Homo sapiens: one gene and its partners. The protein of the gene in region 4 interacts with the protein of the main gene of each other region in a pairwise test. Each region holds a gene or a part of one and is shown on either strand. Other genes may lie near its edges.

Evidence for each region.
Region 1: the proteins of CAPN3 (region 4) and NECAB2 interact in a two-hybrid assay, tested with the Homo sapiens proteins (one large-scale study listed by BioGRID).
Region 2: the proteins of CAPN3 (region 4) and MMP2 interact in a two-hybrid assay, tested with the Homo sapiens proteins (one large-scale study listed by BioGRID and IntAct).
Region 3: the proteins of CAPN3 (region 4) and C1QTNF9 interact in a two-hybrid assay, tested with the Homo sapiens proteins (one large-scale study listed by BioGRID and IntAct).
Region 5: the proteins of CAPN3 (region 4) and PREPL interact in a two-hybrid assay, tested with the Homo sapiens proteins (one large-scale study listed by BioGRID and IntAct).

The regions. Positions count from the first base shown.
Region 1 is NC_000016.10:83,978,244-83,981,762, reverse strand, and holds part of NECAB2 (N-terminal EF-hand calcium-binding protein 2), read right to left. Parts: intron 3,320-3,519; coding exon 3,211-3,319; intron 925-3,210; coding exon 899-924; intron 734-898; coding exon 636-733; intron 1-635. UniProt on the Homo sapiens protein: May act as a signaling scaffold protein that senses intracellular calcium.
Region 2 is NC_000016.10:55,482,198-55,485,716, reverse strand, and holds part of MMP2 (72 kDa type IV collagenase isoform 1 preproprotein), read right to left. Parts: intron 2,809-3,519; coding exon 2,582-2,808; intron 1,702-2,581; coding exon 1,553-1,701; intron 419-1,552; coding exon 290-418; intron 114-289; coding exon 1-113.
Region 3 is NC_000013.11:24,319,579-24,323,049, reverse strand, and holds the end of C1QTNF9 (complement C1q and tumor necrosis factor-related protein 9A precursor), read right to left. Parts: intron 2,055-3,471; coding exon 1,282-2,054; 3' UTR 519-1,281; downstream 1-518. UniProt on the Homo sapiens protein: Probable adipokine. Activates AMPK, AKT, and p44/42 MAPK signaling pathways.
Region 4 is NC_000015.10:42,404,497-42,408,015, reverse strand, and holds part of CAPN3 (calpain-3), read right to left. Parts: intron 3,253-3,519; exon of another isoform or gene 3,061-3,252; intron 2,091-3,060; coding exon 2,073-2,090; intron 1-2,072. UniProt on the Homo sapiens protein: Calcium-regulated non-lysosomal thiol-protease. Proteolytically cleaves CTBP1 at 'His-409'. Mediates, with UTP25, the proteasome-independent degradation of p53/TP53.
Region 5 is NC_000002.12:44,354,979-44,358,497, forward strand, and holds part of PREPL (prolyl endopeptidase-like), read right to left. Parts: intron 1-3,519. UniProt on the Homo sapiens protein: Serine peptidase whose precise substrate specificity remains unclear. Does not cleave peptides after a arginine or lysine residue. Regulates trans-Golgi network morphology and sorting by regulating the membrane binding of the AP-1 complex.

The DNA of each region.
Region 1 (3,519 bases), on a different chromosome or scaffold from region 4:
CTCTCCAGTTGCCTCCTGGGTGTGCCTGGAGTCTCATGCTACACTCCCATGCCTATTGCCAGGTCCCTGACTCAGTTTCCCCACTCATCCCAGCCAGCAGCTATGGCTGTCTGGCTGTGACTCTGTTGAGTTCACCTTTGTGAGCCTCTGTTTCCATAGCTGTGAGATAGTGGAGGTGACAGCAACCACCCATAGGGTTGCTGTGAGGATTAAACCAGGTGCTGAGCATCGAGAACCTGATATGGGACAGGGTTCAGATGCATGAACCACCACCCCCCACCACGCCCCACCCCGCCCCCTCTTCCAGTCTTGTAAGCCCACCCTGAAGGGTACGACACCTGTCTGGGGACCCCTTAAGGGCACAGGGTGATTGCGGCCACCCTTTCTAAGGCCCCAGCCCAGGATCAGGCCTGATTCCGGGAAAATGCCTCCTGCTCCCAACCAGAGCCATTCACCAAACCATTCTATTCCCTTCCCAGTTCATCTCAGCTGCTTCAAAGAGGCCCAGGCAAAGCCCACCCCTGAGATAGGCCTCCCTGGCGGCCTGTCTTCAAAAATCCAGGCATCCTTAGGCAAGGGTGGAACTGAAGCAGCACTGGAGCCCTGGACCCCGGGGGCCACCTACACCCACTGACCTTCTTGGTATAACCCATGGCCTTCAGGACAGAGTGATTCAAGGTCTCCAGGGAGGCCAGGACATCCTCATAGTCACCCATGTGGTCCACAAAGTAATCTGGGGAAGGAAAGGCAAAGGTCAGGGGTCACAGGTCCTGCCCCTCCCACTCAGCACTCCTGCACCTCCCACCTGCGCTACCTCCAGCCTCCCCTGCCTCAGGCCCTTCTCATCCAGCCCCATCCCAGCATCCCCATCTTGGTCCCAGCATAGCCAGGCACCTACCACACAGCTCCTTGGTGTCCACATGGCTGCAGAGACAGACAGAGGCAGAGACAGACAGAGACAGAGAGGGGGTTAGCAGGCCTGACCCTGCACAGCCTGCGAAACACACATCCTGCCTGCTCTTTGCAGCCTGTGTGCTGGCCCCACAAGCTCCGCCTTACAGAAGAGGGTGCAGCAGGTAGGTGACACCCCCGCCCCTGAAGGCCCACGTCTGTCTGATCCCCCACACCACCCACCCTTGTTCTGTTTTCTCGGAGTCTGCTGACCCCATCATGAATAAATGACACCAAGGGGAGGGCCAAGCTGGGGGCCAGGAAAGGGGTAAAGGGACAGAGAGTGGGGACCCATTACTGTGACGGGCTGTCAGCAAAGCTCTCATCTGACCCACTGACCCACCCCCAGTCGACCCTGCCTGCTGGGTCCTGGAGTTCCTGGGGTTGTGGCAGAGCCCTTCCTGTTCTGGTCGCAGCCCCTGGGTCCCATATCCCCATTCCTACAGCCTGGAGAAGGGTCCTGTCCTTTCTTGGGGGAGCAGGCTGAGCATGAGCCTATCCCCCATGGCAGTGAAGGAGCACAGACCGGCCCCAAGATAAGGGGTGCAGTGCTGGGAACTATGGTGGTTCTGCAGCTTAGGAGCAGATTTGATAAGCTGAGGCCCTCTGGGACTGGCTAGAGATGGTCTGGATAAGGAGCTACTGCCAAGTCAATGTGCAAGGGACCCAATACGGTGGTGGCCCTTTCTGGGCCTAGGTCCCTCATCGTGCTCAGTGGAGCCCAGGCTCAGCAAAGCACATCTGGACAGAAGGCTTCTGTGGCCCAGTGAATCTGCACTCGGGGGCTCTGCATGCTCTGTCAGGAGGTGCCTCCAACCTCCATCTCATATTCAGAGTTCTGGCAAGTCCTGCAGAAAGCGACCCTGTCATTCTGCTTTAATTCATGTTTCACAAAACTTTTTGATGGTTTGTACACTGTTTTGGGCACAAAGTCTATTTAGCATCCCAAGGGGCTAATGTTCGTGGCTCACACCTTAGGTAATGTTGGGGAGATTAATCCTAAAAGTCTTTATAGAGCTTTGACCTTCCATAACCGCGAGTCCTCCCTGCACCCCCACCCACCCACACGTACTCTCACAGTTCGACTCTCAAACCAGTGCCTCCTCCTCCCTCCGCCTCCACCCCCTCCTCTACCCCGCTGGTCCTAACACAAAAGGCCCTGAAAGAGAAGGTCTAAATCAATGGGCACCTGCCTGGCCCCTTCAAAGCACCCCAGGAAGCTGCAGTAACAGCTCAGAAATCTCCATCTGGCCCCAGACAGTTCTCCATTCTGCAGTCTGGAGCCTGAAGCCATTTCTTTAAAGTGGCCTTTCCCAGAGGATGGTATCTGCTCCACTTACCATATCCCGGTCCCCAGCCAGTGCCCCCCAGGACTCTCTCAGCCGCAGCCTCTGGTCCAAACCACCACTGTACTCTACCCCTTGCACACTGGTTTGGTGGTAGCTCCTTGTCCAGACCATCTCTAGTCAGTCTCAGAGAACCTCCGCTTACCAAATGTGCCCTAAGCAGCCCTCCAGAAGCTTGGGTCCTCATCACGCGAGTAGGCCTGAGAAAGGAGACCAGGTGGGGCTCTGATCCCTCCTGAAGGTGGGGTTGAGGAGAGGGCTCAGACCTCATCCTGTCTGGGGAATCCCAAGAAAAGGGCAAGATTGGAGGTGAGGCTGGGAAGGGTCAAGGGTAAGTCTGAGTAGAATCTGCATTTTCCACTTGATTTAGAGATGGGTGGAGACAGAGTTTTTGGCTGATTCTGAGATGCAGGTCAGGGTTATGACTGGGTTGGAGAAAAGGTTTAATAAGCTATAATGATAGACGTAGTGTTGAGTTAGGATTCGTGTTTGGTTTAACACAGGAGTCAGTGTTAGGATGACGTTCAACCTCACAGTTAATGTTGGGACTGGGAGGACACACAGGCATTGGGGTTGGGGTGAGAACTGGCTGCTGGCTGAAGATGGCAGAAGGATGAAGTCATTGCCACCTTCCCATTTTCATAATCCCATGTCCACTGTGCAAAACCAGGAGTCTCTCCTTAGTTGGCCATGTGCACTCAGAAGACACACTTGCGATAGTAGCCAATGCAATATGAATCTGCACACGCCCCATTCACCCCAGGCAGTGAAGAGCTGACTTCTGGATTAGCAAATTTGGGGATTTTCAGTTCTCCTGCCCCTTACAGGGGACTAGGAACGGACACTAGATGAAAAGATGCCTCCACCACAGCCCACACACACCCCCACTCTGCCAGCCAGGACTGAAGCTCACTTGGTGTTGTCAGAGTCAATCGTGTGAAAGAGATCCTCCAGTTCTTTCTCATTAAGGACGCCATCTGCAAAGAAGAGCTGGAATTCCTCCAAGGACAGCTTCCCATCATCTGCAAGGAAGGAAGCAGAGAAAGGAGCTGGTGTCTGCAGAGATAAGGCTGGTGGGGCTAGTGCATGCACGGCCCCCAAATCCAGTCAATGGCCTGACTGACAGAACAACTGCAGCTCAGATAATCCCTACCCTCCCAGCTAATCCCCAAACTAAAAGACAAATTCCATTTTAGATAATCCCTACCCACCCAGCTAATTC
Region 2 (3,519 bases), on a different chromosome or scaffold from region 4:
GAGGAAGCCATCGCTGCGGCCGGTATCAGTGCAGCTGTTGTACTCCTTGCCATTGAACAAGAAGGGGAACTTGCAGTACTCCCCATCGGCGTTCCCATACTTCACACGGACCACTAAAGAGTGACATGGAAGGGGGAGGTTGGACTTCTCCAGGCCTTCTTTGGAGACCAAGATTCTGACTCACCCAGATGTGTGACTTTCCTCCCCTCCCACCTCTCTGGTCCAAGCAAATGGAGTGGAGAGAGGACAGGAGAGAAGGTCTGGGGCATGCAGAGGGCCCCTTTCTCACCTTGGCCTTCTCCCAAGGTCCATAGCTCATCGTCATCAAAATGGGAGTCTCCCCCAACACCAGTGCCTGGGGCGAAGGCATGAGCCAGGAGTCCGTCCTTACCGTCAAAGGGGTATCCATCGCCATGCTCTGAAACACACACTGGGTCTTAGCGTCTAGCTGTGCCACCTAGACCCTGAAACCCCTCCACACCCCATCTACATGTGGAGCCTGTCAGCCCACCCAGCATCTGTCCCCTTCCCTTGTCCCAGTGGGGTTATCCAGGACTGTCAACAGGAGCTCAGTAGAGATCTGCTGACCTGGTTGTTACCATCCTATGGTCTACACTGCTCTCCCAGGTTTACATGACTCCCAGTATCCATACCCTCTACCTCCATTGTCTACTCTACCACCATGACACTATATGTACCACATACCCACATTACCACACTAGTGTCCTCACCCCATCTTCATCATCCCCAGTGTCTATGCCATCCTCCATCCTGTCAATACTGCCCTCTTAACCACAATCCTGCCTTCATGTCACACTATCACCAATATCTGCAACATGAATCCTCATGCCCACCTTGTCACCAAGGCCTGTACCACCCACCCACTTGTCTACATTGTTTCCCCTGCTCTTTACCTTCATCACTTACCACTCAGTGTCTATACCACATACCTTTATGTCTGTGCTACTGGCAGTGTTCACACCATAAACTCACATGGCCACCTGGCCCCAGGTTCTACGACCCTTCCTCTAGTGTCTACACTGCTCCACTGTTTCCAAACCACTCTCATATATCTACAGTTCCTCAGTGTCTACCAGCATCATCCAACAGAGCTTTCTGTGATTAAGAGGAATATTCTTTGTCTGTGCTGTCCAAAATCAATAGTCACTAGCCTCCTGTGTCTTTTGAGCACTTAAAATGTGCCCAGTGTGACCAGGAAACTAATTTAAAATTTTTAACTAATTTAAATTTAAACAGCCATGTATATTCTGCCTAATGGCTGCCATATTGGACAGCACAGTAGACCACTTGCTTCGGGTTTAGACGGCCTCCAGGTTATACCACAACACACCATCTGCCCCCATGTCAACGTGGCTCTCCAGTGTCCACTCCGTGTTGTGCTGCCCCCATCTAAACCACCCCCAGGGCCCACACCATCTACTGTCCTATCTAAGCCGCCCTTAGGATCCCCACGCCCCTCTAATGTCCATCTCACCCCCTCGTCTCAACACTGATCCCTGCTGGCCCCTCTTCTGCCCCATCTTCTGCCTACCCCAGCGGCCAAAGTTGATCATGATGTCTGCCTCTCCATCATGGATTCGAGAAAACCGCAGTGGGGTCACATCGCTCCAGACTTGGAAGGCACGAGCAAAGGCATCATCCACTGTCTCTGGGTCCAGATCAGGTGTGTAGCCAATGATCCTGGAGGTGGTAGAACTGCATGTGAGTGTGTATGCATGTGCATAAGTGTATGTATATGCAAGTATGTGTGTGTGCACAGATGTATGAAAAAGTTTGAGTGTGTGTGTGTATGTGAACATACAAGTATATGCACAAGCACGGGAAGGGTGCACAGGTATGTGTATGTATATGTGAGCATGTGCCTGCGTGTATGTGTGTGTAGGCTGGGCAGGGCTCACTGCCAAGGACAACCCTCCCAGAATGCCTTGAAGACCCAGGGAGTCCCAGGCCAGCCAACATTTTTAGGCCCCAGCTCAGGAGTTCCATCTGTCACTTCTGGCTGGTGGGGGAGGGCCATAAGTAGTGCATTATGGGGCACAGGGCAAAGATCCCACCATTGGAACCCAGCACCACCCATACAGAGCACAGCTCTTGGCCCAATTAGCAACCAGTTATAACCCAATTGGGCTGCTAAACCCAATTAGCTACCAATCATCACGTTCCTTCTGCCCATCCCAATGACCTCATCTAAAAACAATAACAATGACTAGCATTACTACACTCTTGCTCTGTGTCAAAAATCATAGAAGCCGTTTGTATTAGTTCAGCCTAGCTTAGTTCCCCAACATACCATATAAGGGCATTTTTTAAGCCCCATTTTGTAGATTGGAAAGCCAACATTCACAGCACTGAAAAGTAACCCAATGTCTCATGGCCAGCAAGTATGAAACTCAAGTCTGTCTGACTTCATTTTCTAAGAACTGTGTATTGAAACTCCCTAAGATGTCAAGCCTTCACAAAAGACACCTCATGGATCCCCTGAGTGGAGAGAATGCATGGGTCAAGGAGACTCGTGTCCCTCAGCCCCATGGCCCTGCCTCCCCAAGCCCTGCCCCGGCACCTGTATGTGATCTGGTTCTTGTCCCACTTGGGCTTGCGAGGGAAGAAGTTGTAGTTGGCCACATCTGGGTTGCCGCAGCGTGGCTTCCGCATGGTCTCGATGGTATTCTGGTCAAGATCACCTGTCTGGGGCAGTCCAAAGAACTTCTGCATCTTCTTTAGTGTGTCCTTCAGCACAAACAGGTTGCAGCTCTCCTTGGGGCAGCCATAGAAGGTGTTCAGGTATTGCTGAAAGAAATGCACACCCCCAAGGCAATTAGCCACATTAGGATGGCACAGTACTGACCAAAGCAGGCTGTAGCAATCAGCCCCCCAACCCAGTGCCATAGTCCAGACAGGAAATAAGCCAGGGGTCCCAGAGCACTGGGTGGAGTACTGGGTTCCCAAACCAGCACGGTCACCCATTAGTTGAGCGACAGGACATACAGCTATAGAGAGCATGGCTACCACTTGTTGGTGCTGGGTGCTGACTATATGTCCAGGCACTAAAGTCAGAATATGTTAACTCATTTAATGCTCAAAACTCTGTAATGTAGATATACTAACCCTATTATACAGAGGAGGAAACTGAAGCACAGAGAGGTTAAGAAACTTGCTTACGATCACACAGTTCACAAATGGTAGATCTGGATTTGGGACAAAGCAATCTGGCTCCAGAGGCTGTGATATGGAATCATTATACTCCAGCATCCTTCCTTTACCTCTATCAACTCATTTATCTACCTTGCGGCTGGTGACTTGGGGACTTTTTTCCTCCTGTTTTCTTCTAAAGAGATTCAAGGACTATGTGCATGGGCTCTGGCAGTAGACAGACCTGGGTTTAAATCCTGAATCAGCCATTTGCAAAAAGAAAGTAGTCCTGTCCTTCATGAGTCATACAACTGGCCCTGCCCAAACTGAGGCCCAAACTGAGCAGGTCCCTGCAGAGGTTCAGGGAGC
Region 3 (3,471 bases), on a different chromosome or scaffold from region 4:
CTGCTGGCTCATTTCCCTCTGGACTCCATGGTGGGCGGGGTGTATGGGACAGGCAGGTGGCTGCACCAGAGGGGCTCAGGAAAGCTCGACGCGGAAAGTGTTAAGACTTTTGGAAATGTTGAGATGGGGCGAAAATGTATTTTGCACAGGTGAAGGAAATCAACTTTGGGAATCAGAGGGCAGATTGTTTTGTGTTGAACTGTGTCTCCCAAAAGAGATGCTGAAGTCCTAACCTGTACATGTGACCTTATTTGAAAATAAGGAGCTGCAGATATGATTAAGATGGGTCATAGTAGATTAGGGAAGCTGTCCTTGTAAGAAGAGGAAAATTTGGCTGATACAGAAGGAGGACAGCCACCTGAAGATGGAGGCGGGGACTGGAGTGATGCTGCCACCAGCTGCCAGAAGCTGGAAGCAGCAAGGCTGCATCCTCCTGTATCCCCTTTGGAGGGAGAATGGCCCTGCTGCTACGGTGATCTCAAACTTCCAGCCTACAGAACTGTGAGAAAGTCCATTTCTGTTGTTTAAAGACTCCCAGTTTGTGTACTTTATTAGAGCAGTCCTAGAAAACACATAGAGATTCAAGTCTGGCAAATAATGATCGAACAATGATTTGTTGGGTAAAATGGTGATTAAAACCTAGGTTAGAAAATGAGCAAAGTGGGAGGGAGAGCACCAGGACAAATAGCTAATGCATGCAGGGCTTAATACCTAGGTGATGGGTTGATAGATACAGCAAACCACCACAGCACATGTTTACCTATGTAACAAACATGCATGTTTTGCATATGTATCCCAGAACTTAAAATAAAATAAAATTTTTTTAAAAGACAAAATGAGCAGTGTCTACAGCTTTCTGGAGTATGACAGCATCACCAGCTTAAAGCTGTTGCTAGTACTAAATTGAATAAACATTTCCCTCTAATTTCCCCTTAATGTCCTCAGAAACACAGATGAGGGATACATCTTCATATGACTCCTCAGAGCACTAAAATGATATTAAAACACTCTTCCCACAAGAAACGCACAGACGAGGGATTCTTCAGATAATAGGAATAAGAAATGTGAAATAAATTAGAATAAACCATGCAGCTATTTTAAATATTTACTCCTGGAAAAATAGTAAGTTACACAGAATCAGTTTTGGGAATAACTTTTCCATTTTCACCTTTTTATGATTATTGTAATAATTGGAGGAATTAATAAAGTAAAACCATCTGAATAAGTTCATCCCAAGCTGATTCTGATGGATGGTGTGGCGGATTTTTAAACTCTCCTCTGTCACGGGCTGCTGAACAGAAGGAACCCTGTGAAAGTTGTGTCATCGTCCTCATCAGCAAACAAGCCATTGAACCTCTCTCCTCCTGTCACCTGCAGCCACACCTCATCCCCGAGCTTCAGCTGCAGGACAATGCCGCCAGAGGCCTGGTCCTCAGAGCTCATGTAAGCATCTTTGGTGTGCAGTATTTTTACTCCATTTTTGACCAAAGACACCTGAACATTTCTGGAGAAAACAGTGATGTGGTAGGTGAAGTAATAGACCCCAGCAATGTGGCACGTGAATTTCCCCGCTGCTGTATCATAATGGTTGAATTCGTTATACAGGATCTTATCAAATTTAATGGGCATATCTGAAGAAGGAAACTTGCTCAGCACCGTGAGCCCCACAGTGAAAGCACTTTTTGGCAAGACTAGAGTCTCACCGATTTTCCCTTTCTCTCCTCGATCTCCTTTCCAGCCTCTTATTCCCCGGACTCCTGGCTCACCCTGGGGCCCCGTGGGTCCAGCTTCTCCTTTGGGACCAGGCTTTCCAATAGGGCCCATGGGGCCCGGTAAACCAGTTGGGCCCAAAGGCCCAATGTTGCCCCTTGGCCCCTCAGGACCAGTGGGACCCACGTCACCCTTATTCCCCTTCTGCCCCTGAGGCCCAGTCTCTCCTCGGAGGCCCTTCTCTCCCATGGGCCCTGCAAGCCCCTTGGGGCCATGTTTTCCTGGGGATCCTCTTGAGCCTTGATCACCTTTGATGCCTTTTGCTTCAACTTTTCCATCTGCTCCTAAATAGAGAAAGAGCAAATAAAGAGATAGCTTGTGAAAGATTCCCTTGTGAACAACTTTGGTTTTTCTATAATTGAGCTCACAAATGAAACAAAGTAGTGCACAGGTTCAGTATATGCCCAGAGTTTAAAATTCAATTACTCCATCTGGGTGCAGTGGCTCACACCTGTAATCCTAGCACCTTGGGAGACCGCGGCAGGAGGACTGCCTGAGGCCAAGAGTTCAAGACCAACCTGGCCAACATAGCAATACCCTGACTCTAAAAAAAAAAAAGAAAAAGAAAAATAAGAAAATAAAATTCAATTACTCCAGCCCAGCTCAGTGGCTCATGCCTGTAATCCTAGCACTTTGGGAGGCCAAGGTGGGCAGACTACTTGAGTCCAGGAATTCAAGATCAGCCTAGGCAACATGGCCAAACCTTATCTCTGCAAAAAATACAAAAATTAGCCAGGCGCGGTGGTGCACAACTGTAGTTCCAGATACTCAGGAGGCTGAGGTGGGAGGATGGCTTGAGCCCAGGAGGCTGAGGCTGCAGTGATCCGTGATCAAACCACTGCACTGCAGCCTGGGCAACAGAGTGAGATTCTGTCTCAAAAAAAATAAAAATAAATGAAAATCAATTACTCCAATTACACACGTGTGTGCACATGGACACACACACATCCCAACACACCTTTTGACTACCGTCTACTAAATTAGTGTCAGGGCTCACGTTAGAAATTACAACCCTACCATCTAAGTCTACCATGCTGGCCATTAAATAATGTCAATCCATGACAGAAAGCACTCTTCAGAGCAGAGACAGGTAGATTAACTGACACTCAACCCTAGTCGTGACATCCTCTAAAAACCTCCTCCCTGGAGTGAACATAAAATAAAGCCTGCATCGAGGCATTGCCCTCTCCTGCCCAACCCCAGCCCCAACCCACCTATCCCACCGGCAATTCATCATCTACAGAAACCTTGCTGCTTCCTTGCACCCCCACCCATACCAAAGAGCCGTGGTTGCAAGTGTGGACTCTGAGGTTAAATGCCAGGTTTCCATTCTGTCCCCATATGCACACAGGACGTCAGATGAGCTAGTGAGCCTCGTGCCTCTGTTCCCTCACATATGGAACTAGGGTAATAAAACTACCTAGCGTCTGGGGATATTGCATTCAGTGAGTCAGTACATGAAAAGCACAAAGTGAAGATTACACAAGTTTGCCACTACGACTACATCCCGACCCATCAGGGACCAGTTCTAGTTCCACCTCCTCCATGCAGTGCTGCCAGATGCACCAAGTCAAAAACTCAGTCTCACTCCTCAGTGCTCATCCACTGCAAGGTTCAAGGTTCAACAAACTACAGCCACAGGCCAAATTCAGCCTCCCTCCCGCAAGCTAAACAAATATGGTTTACATGTTTTTTTGTTTT
Region 4 (3,519 bases):
CCACTCCATCCCTCCTCATGGTAGAGTATTGAGAGCTCAGCACGTGAAATGCTAAGAATGCTAAAAGCAGCATGATCTAGTGCAGTGATTGTCAAGTATTTTGTAGACTTTTTTTTTTCCAGATGGAAACACTGTTCAAATTAAATTTCCTGCAGAAACATGGTGTATATAAAAACACAAGCTTCTCTGATTAATGAGAACAGAGCTCTTTGCCCTCAGCACCCCACATCACCATGGCAGCTACTGAGGCACCTCAAAGGAACCTCTACAACCCTGCAAAGTATAGATTGAAAAAGGACACGGATTAGTGGCATGGTCAGTGGGTGAGCCATCAGAACACTGGGCTGGAATCCCAGCCCTGCCCCTCATATAAGAAATATCCTCTCTGGCCGGGCACGGTGGCTCACGCCTGTAATCCCAGCACTTTAGGAGGCCGAAGCAGGCAGATCACAAGGTCAGGAGATCAAGACCATCCTGGCTAACTGGGTGAAACCCCATCTCTACTAAAGATACAAAAAAATTAGCTGGGTGTGGTGGTGGGTGCCTGTAGTCCCAGCTACTTGGGAGGCTGAGGCAGGAAAATGGTGTGAACATGGGAGGTGGAGCTTGCAGTGAGCCAAGATCAAGCCACTGCACTCCAGGCTGGGTGACAGAGTGAGACTGTCTCAAAAAAAACCAAAAATATCCTCTCTGGCCTCAGTTTACTCATCCTTTAATGGTAAAATCTGCTTTCCCTCCTCATAGGGCTCTTGTGGGGATCAAATGAGATACTGAATGCAAAATCATACTGCAAAAACATTTAAGATGCTACACAAACAAGGGATATTTTCAAGACATGCTCGTGCAAGTGACAAGGATATGAAAAGGACGGAGAGCGGCTGCTGCATGGTGCCAACACTGTGGATGCGGTGCACCTGTAGGGAAAGCCGGGGGAAGGCAAGGCTGTGGGGATTGAGGCTGCAATGCAGAGAACAACTGGGCAGGCAGAGCCTCTCGGAGCAGAAAAGCAGCCCGCCTGGACTCATGCACCACTGCCCTTCCATGCTGCTCATCTAGGACAGCTCAAGCAGATAGACCCGTGGAAACGGCTCCCCAGCTTTGGCTCCCAGCAGGCCCCAGAGGCCTTGGCTTGCTCTGCCTTCTAAGCAGTGTCTTGCTCAAGCAGCTGAAGCTTGTGGGGATCCCAGAGCAAATGGAGGTCACAGTCTGAGGGGGGATGTGTAGGATGGATATGGTGTGGCCATGGAGCATCCCTGCCAGGCACACACTGGCAGGCCCGAGTGTGGGTCTGGACAACACAGGCCTTGAAGTGTAGGGGGCTGGCATCAGAGAAAGAGGGCAAGAAACACAGGTTTTGGAGTAAACAGACATGGTTTCCAGTTCCATTTTCCCCACTCATTAGTTCTGTTCCTTGGGCAAGTTCACTTCTTTGAGTCTATCTCACCTGTGAAAGGGGAAAAATAACAGCACCTACTTTGTAGATACTGTTATAATTGGGGGGGAAAAAAAAGAGAGGGACTGACCCCAAGCACAGTGCCTGGAATGTGGTAGTGCCTGAGGAGTGTCAGCTCTGGTCTGGGCCAGCACCAGTACCTGGAGGACCCCTGTGATGGATCCATCACCACCAGGCACCACCAGAAATGCTAGCACCAAATCTGATGGTGTATGATGGCCTCTTGTGGTTCAGGACACGGACTCTGGACCCAGACTGCCTGGCTCTAAGTACTGGCTCTGCCCCTCTCTGGCTGTGTGGCCTTGGGCAAGTTAGTCAAGTCTGTACCTTTTCTCCCTCTGAAAATGGGGATAGTTATAGTACTAATCTCATAGGGCTGTTGTGAGGAAGGAATTAATCATGGAAAGCACCTAAAAGAGTGCTTGGCACGTAGCCTTCCCCCAGCAAATCGTAGTTGTCATTACTGCACGCTCGGCCCCAGCAGAAGCTCAGGAAGGAGGGGGAGGAAGAGGCAAGTCTGGTGCATGGATGCATATGAGCTCACACATGCACACTTCACATGCATGCACATACATATGCATGAGTACACACACTTCATGCTCTCTACCCACACACCTACCTTGGTTTTTTTCTTTTTCTGCATAAGAAAAGGAAACAGTAAATGCAGAATAAGTGAAAAGTAAGTTCTCAGAACCGCCAGTGGCTTTTGGCTTCCCTGTATCCTGGTCTTTAGCTTGGGGTGGGGCTCCAGGGTCCAGAAATCTGAATCACATGGAGCCAAAAAGGGGCATGGAGGGTGAAGGGAGAAGAGAATTCTTCTTTCTCCTCCATGCCCAGACACCAGTGACTGCTCTGACTTTGTTTTTATAATCTACTCTTACTGCATATGGCAAGGAAAAAGATCTTCTGGCTAAGGTTTTCTTTCTTCCTTTTTTAAAAAATGAAATTGGTGGCCGGGCGTGCTGGCTCATGCCTGTAATCCCAGCACTTTGGGAGGCTGAGGTGGGCGGATTATCTGAGGTCAGTAGTTCAGGACTATCCTGGCCAACATGGTGAAACCCCATCTCGACTAAAAAATACAAAAATTATCCAGGCGTGATGGTGGGCACCTGTAATCTCAGCTACTCAGGAGGCTGAGGCAGGAGAATTGCTTGAACCCGGGAGGCGGAGGTTGCAGTGAGCTGAGATCATGCCATTGCACTCCAGCCTGGGTGACAAGAGTGAAACTCCGTCTCAAAAATAAACAAATAAATAAATAATAAAAAAATGAAATTGGTTACTAAAACACCAAAAACATGGCTCTCTCAAACTGACCTAACAATGGATTTTGACTTACAGAATATTTTTTAAAAATTTTTGAGCAAGCATTTAACATAGGGAGATTTTCTTTGGTAAAAGCCCCAGCTGTGGCAGGCTGCCCTGGGCCTGTAATCCCTGCGGCAACTATCAGCTGAGCCAAGGGCCCTGCTCCCTGTGTCTTCCAGATTGCCCCACGCCCCAACATTCCTGTTGACCCTCGACACTGGAGCGAAATGTCAATTGAGAACTGCAGACAACTGTGTCAGTGCAGGGACATCAAAACCCCTGCACCTGCCTGCTCTACTCACGTGACGTGCCAGCTCCCATAAGCTTTTGGGTTTGCAGGTCCTGATCAATACTGCACACCGATGACCAGCATCCAGATGACCAGAACAGATCCCCACACACCTACCACTAAAACCAATCGCCTGTGGTCATTCAGAAGGCACTTGGAGACCTGGCACTGGCTCAGGGTCAGGATTATGACCATGACTGTCACTGCCCAGAAGACAGTTCAGAGGGGCATTTGTCCTCCCATTGGCCTACGTCATCCCCACAGAGCACAAAGGACTGTCAGCTGACTACAGCCCAAAGCCCCAAGGCAGTCACAAGACTCCTCAACACACAGAGCCCAACACACAGCACTCTGTGCTTCGGACTTTGGGCTTCTCACTGCCTGGGGCTGGCCTCAGCGTGGAGGTGCGGAAAAACCTAAGTCTGGAGTCAGAGAGTCTGAATGTGAGTTCCAACCCTGCCACTTACTGAGC
Region 5 (3,519 bases), on a different chromosome or scaffold from region 4:
AGATTTTGGAATGTTAACTGGGTACCTTATCTCAGTTTACAGGGGAACAACACTCTAATCAAATGCAGTAACATTTTAGAGCTAAACATCTACTAATTGGGATAAAGATCATAATAGCTTTGTGTCAGTTTAGGTCAGGTTTTGCCCATTCTCAACAGCCTCCAATCAGTTAAAAAAAATCATTTGTTTTCTAACAGGCTTTTGGATTTTAGAATCCAAAGAGATGAGGAATTATCACTCAAGCTCTCTAGTCTTCCATTAAGATGTCTCAAATAAAATGTAATCAGGGCCAGCTGCGGTGGCTCATGCCTGTAATCCCAGCACTTTGAGAGGGCAAGGCAGGTGGATTGCTTGAGGCTGGGCTTCCAGACCAGCCTAGCCAACATGGCGAAACCCTGTCTCTACTTAAAATATAAAAAAATTAGCTGGGTGTGGTGGCACATGCCTGTAATTCCAGTTACTCAGGAGGCTAAGGCACGAGAATCACTTGAGCCTGGGAGGTGGAGGTTGCAGTGAGCAGAGACTGTGCCACTGCACTACAGACTGGGTGACAGAGTGAGACACTGTCTCAAAAAAAAGCAATCACCCTGTAAAGACTCTCATCTTCACTCATCTGAGTTACTGACAAGGCTTCCTACTTCCAATTTATTCTCTATTCTGTCAGAGTGATTCTTCTAAAATGCAAATCTGATTGCGCCTACATTTTTCAATAACATTCTATTGCTTAAAAGGATGTAGCTCAAACTTTTTGCAAGATATACAAAACTACATATTATATATATATATATATATATATATATACACACACACACACATATGAATATGAGACTATTGCAGGAGCTGCTAACCTGTATTGTAGAAATAGGCAAATGACATGTTTAACCAAAGGATTTAGTCTTCTCTCTTTAATTATACAATTTCATTTTGTATCTTGTTCAAATTATCACTATTAAAGATTTTGGGAATTATTTTTTAGGCAGAGCAGAGCAGGATGATGTGGAAGATAAAGAAATGTGATATCTGGATGGATGGATGCTAGTCTTTGAATATCACTGGCTGGCTTGTAAGTATAATAGAGTAAGTTCATCTTGCCATCTGGCTAATGTAAAATGGAAAGCAGAGGTACTTGCCAATAAGAACTGCAGAACTGAATGAATTCAATAAGGTTTAGATCGGCAACACTTGATCATCAAACATTTCCAATTTCTAAATTCAGGTCCAGTGTCAGTCAAGTTGTGAGTTCCAGAATTACCTGATGTGAACTTCAAAAAACAGATCTGGGGCCGGGCATGGTGGCTCACTCCTGTAATCCCAGCACTTTGGGAGGCCGAGGCAGGTGGATCACCTGAAGTCAGGAGTTCGAGACCAGCCTGACCAACGTGGTGAAACCCTGTCTCTACTAAAAAATACAAAAAAATTTAGCTGGGCATGGTGGTGGACGCCTGTAATCCCAGCTACTTGGCAGCTGAGGCAGGAGAATTGCCTGAATCTGGGAGGTGGAGGTTGCAGTGAGCCAAGATCATGCCATTGCACTCCGGCCTGGGCAACAAAGCAAGACTCCGTCTCAAACAAACAAACAAACAAACAAACAACAGATGTGTAGGCCTCAACCATAGAGATTTTCATTACGCAGATGTGGGGTGAGATCCAGGAATCCGCATTTCTAAAAAGCTCTCCAGGATTTCTGATATACAGTTAGACTGCAGAAGTTGATACTGAAGAGTCCCCAAACTTTTAGGCAGTAATTTGTTGCTAAGGTAACAAGAGGTATAGAATCATGAAATTTTAGCACCTCTAAGACTTTCTACAGAATGACAAGTTGAAACTCCCTATTTTTTTTTTTTTGAGACAGGGTATCCTTCTGTCACCCAGGCTGAAGATCTCACTGTGCCTCAACCTCACTGCAGCCTCGACCTCCCAGGCTGAATCAATCATCCCACATCAGCCTTCCAAGCAGCTGGGATTACAGGCGTGCGCCACCATACCCAGCTAATTTTTAGTCTTTTTGGTAGAGTTGGGGTTTTGCCATGTTGCCAAGGCTGGTCTCGAATTCCTGAGCTCGGACAATCTGCTCGCCTTGGCCTCCCAATGTTCTGGGATTACTGGCGTGAGCCAGTATGCCTGATCAGAACTCCCTATTTTTTTCAGTCAGGAAAATTAGGAGTCCTGATTAGTTCAGTCACACCAATCGTGGCTGGATCTTTTGCCTTCTAACATTCCCACTACACATGCTACTTTTCTGTTCCTTAGTTAACTTATATAGGTAATAGCTCTTTAAGCAGACATTTTAATTTACCTAAAAGCAGTAACTACTTTTTCTACTTTATTACACCCTATAAAAGTGGACAGAGTTGGAAATCAGTGGATGCTTGCTGAAAGAAGGAAATGTGCATTCTTCTCTACAGGTGTTTTCACAGCTGCCGGGGCATCTTTATAAAGCTTCCCCAGGTCTCAGTGATAAAGACCATGGCTTTTACATTACATCATTTCTCATAGAGGGAATGGTTGATACATGACATGTGACAGCAGGATTACTTTATCAGGTAAAGGAATTACTAAATGAACTATTAATACTTGGAGTTATTGAGTCAGGTTAAAGTTTCCAGGTAGTGGGAATCTATAAAAGAGAACGGAAAAGTTGCTTCAGGAACAAATGGAGGGAAGAAATAGTCAACCTTCTGTTTAGAATGTGAGCTAATATCACAGCTGTTACTCTGATGGTAATTCCTGTCTACTATTTATAAACTAAGTGTTAAGACAAAGTACGACATGACAAAATGTTCTAAACACAATGCAAAATAAAATAACCTAAAGGTCCAAAATTTAGTTCAATAGGTGAAATTAAAAATTTTATCTTTCTGAAGTAGGAAAGATGTACAAAAAACACAAAAATGAAATAAAAAGAAGTTATAAAGAATTTCTAAATGAGTAAAGAAAGTACTAAACTAAGGCAAGACACTACAAAAAGGAAAAGAATTTCAAAGACTAAAACATAAACAGTAAAAGTCTAGGAAGACTAGGGGGCTAACATATAAAATGTTAAAAGCAAAAGAGACACACACAACACCTAAATAGGTATCAGCTAAGATAGCGGCAAAAATTGAACAAAAACTAGAAAAACTGAGAAAAATTAGATTGAAAAGATAGTTTCTAAAATGAGAAGAATCTGCCCAAGTGTCCATCAATTACAGGAATGGATAAACAAAATGTGGTTTATACATACAAAGGAATATTATTCAACTATAAAAAGAAATGAAGTTATGATACATGCATACAACACAGATGAACTTTGAAAGCCACTGAATTGCATACTTTAAAATGGATCAAGTGGAAAACTTTGTTATACATATATTTTACCCGAAGAAAGGAGGAAGCCAAAACAGACTAAAAGAAAAATCAGTATGCGACAAAACCAGAAATTAAAATAAAAAAAATATTAAAATCATAAATTTGTGAAACTATTGCAAGAATACCACCCCCAAATATCATTAAGGAACCTAAGGAACATAAGAAGTAAAA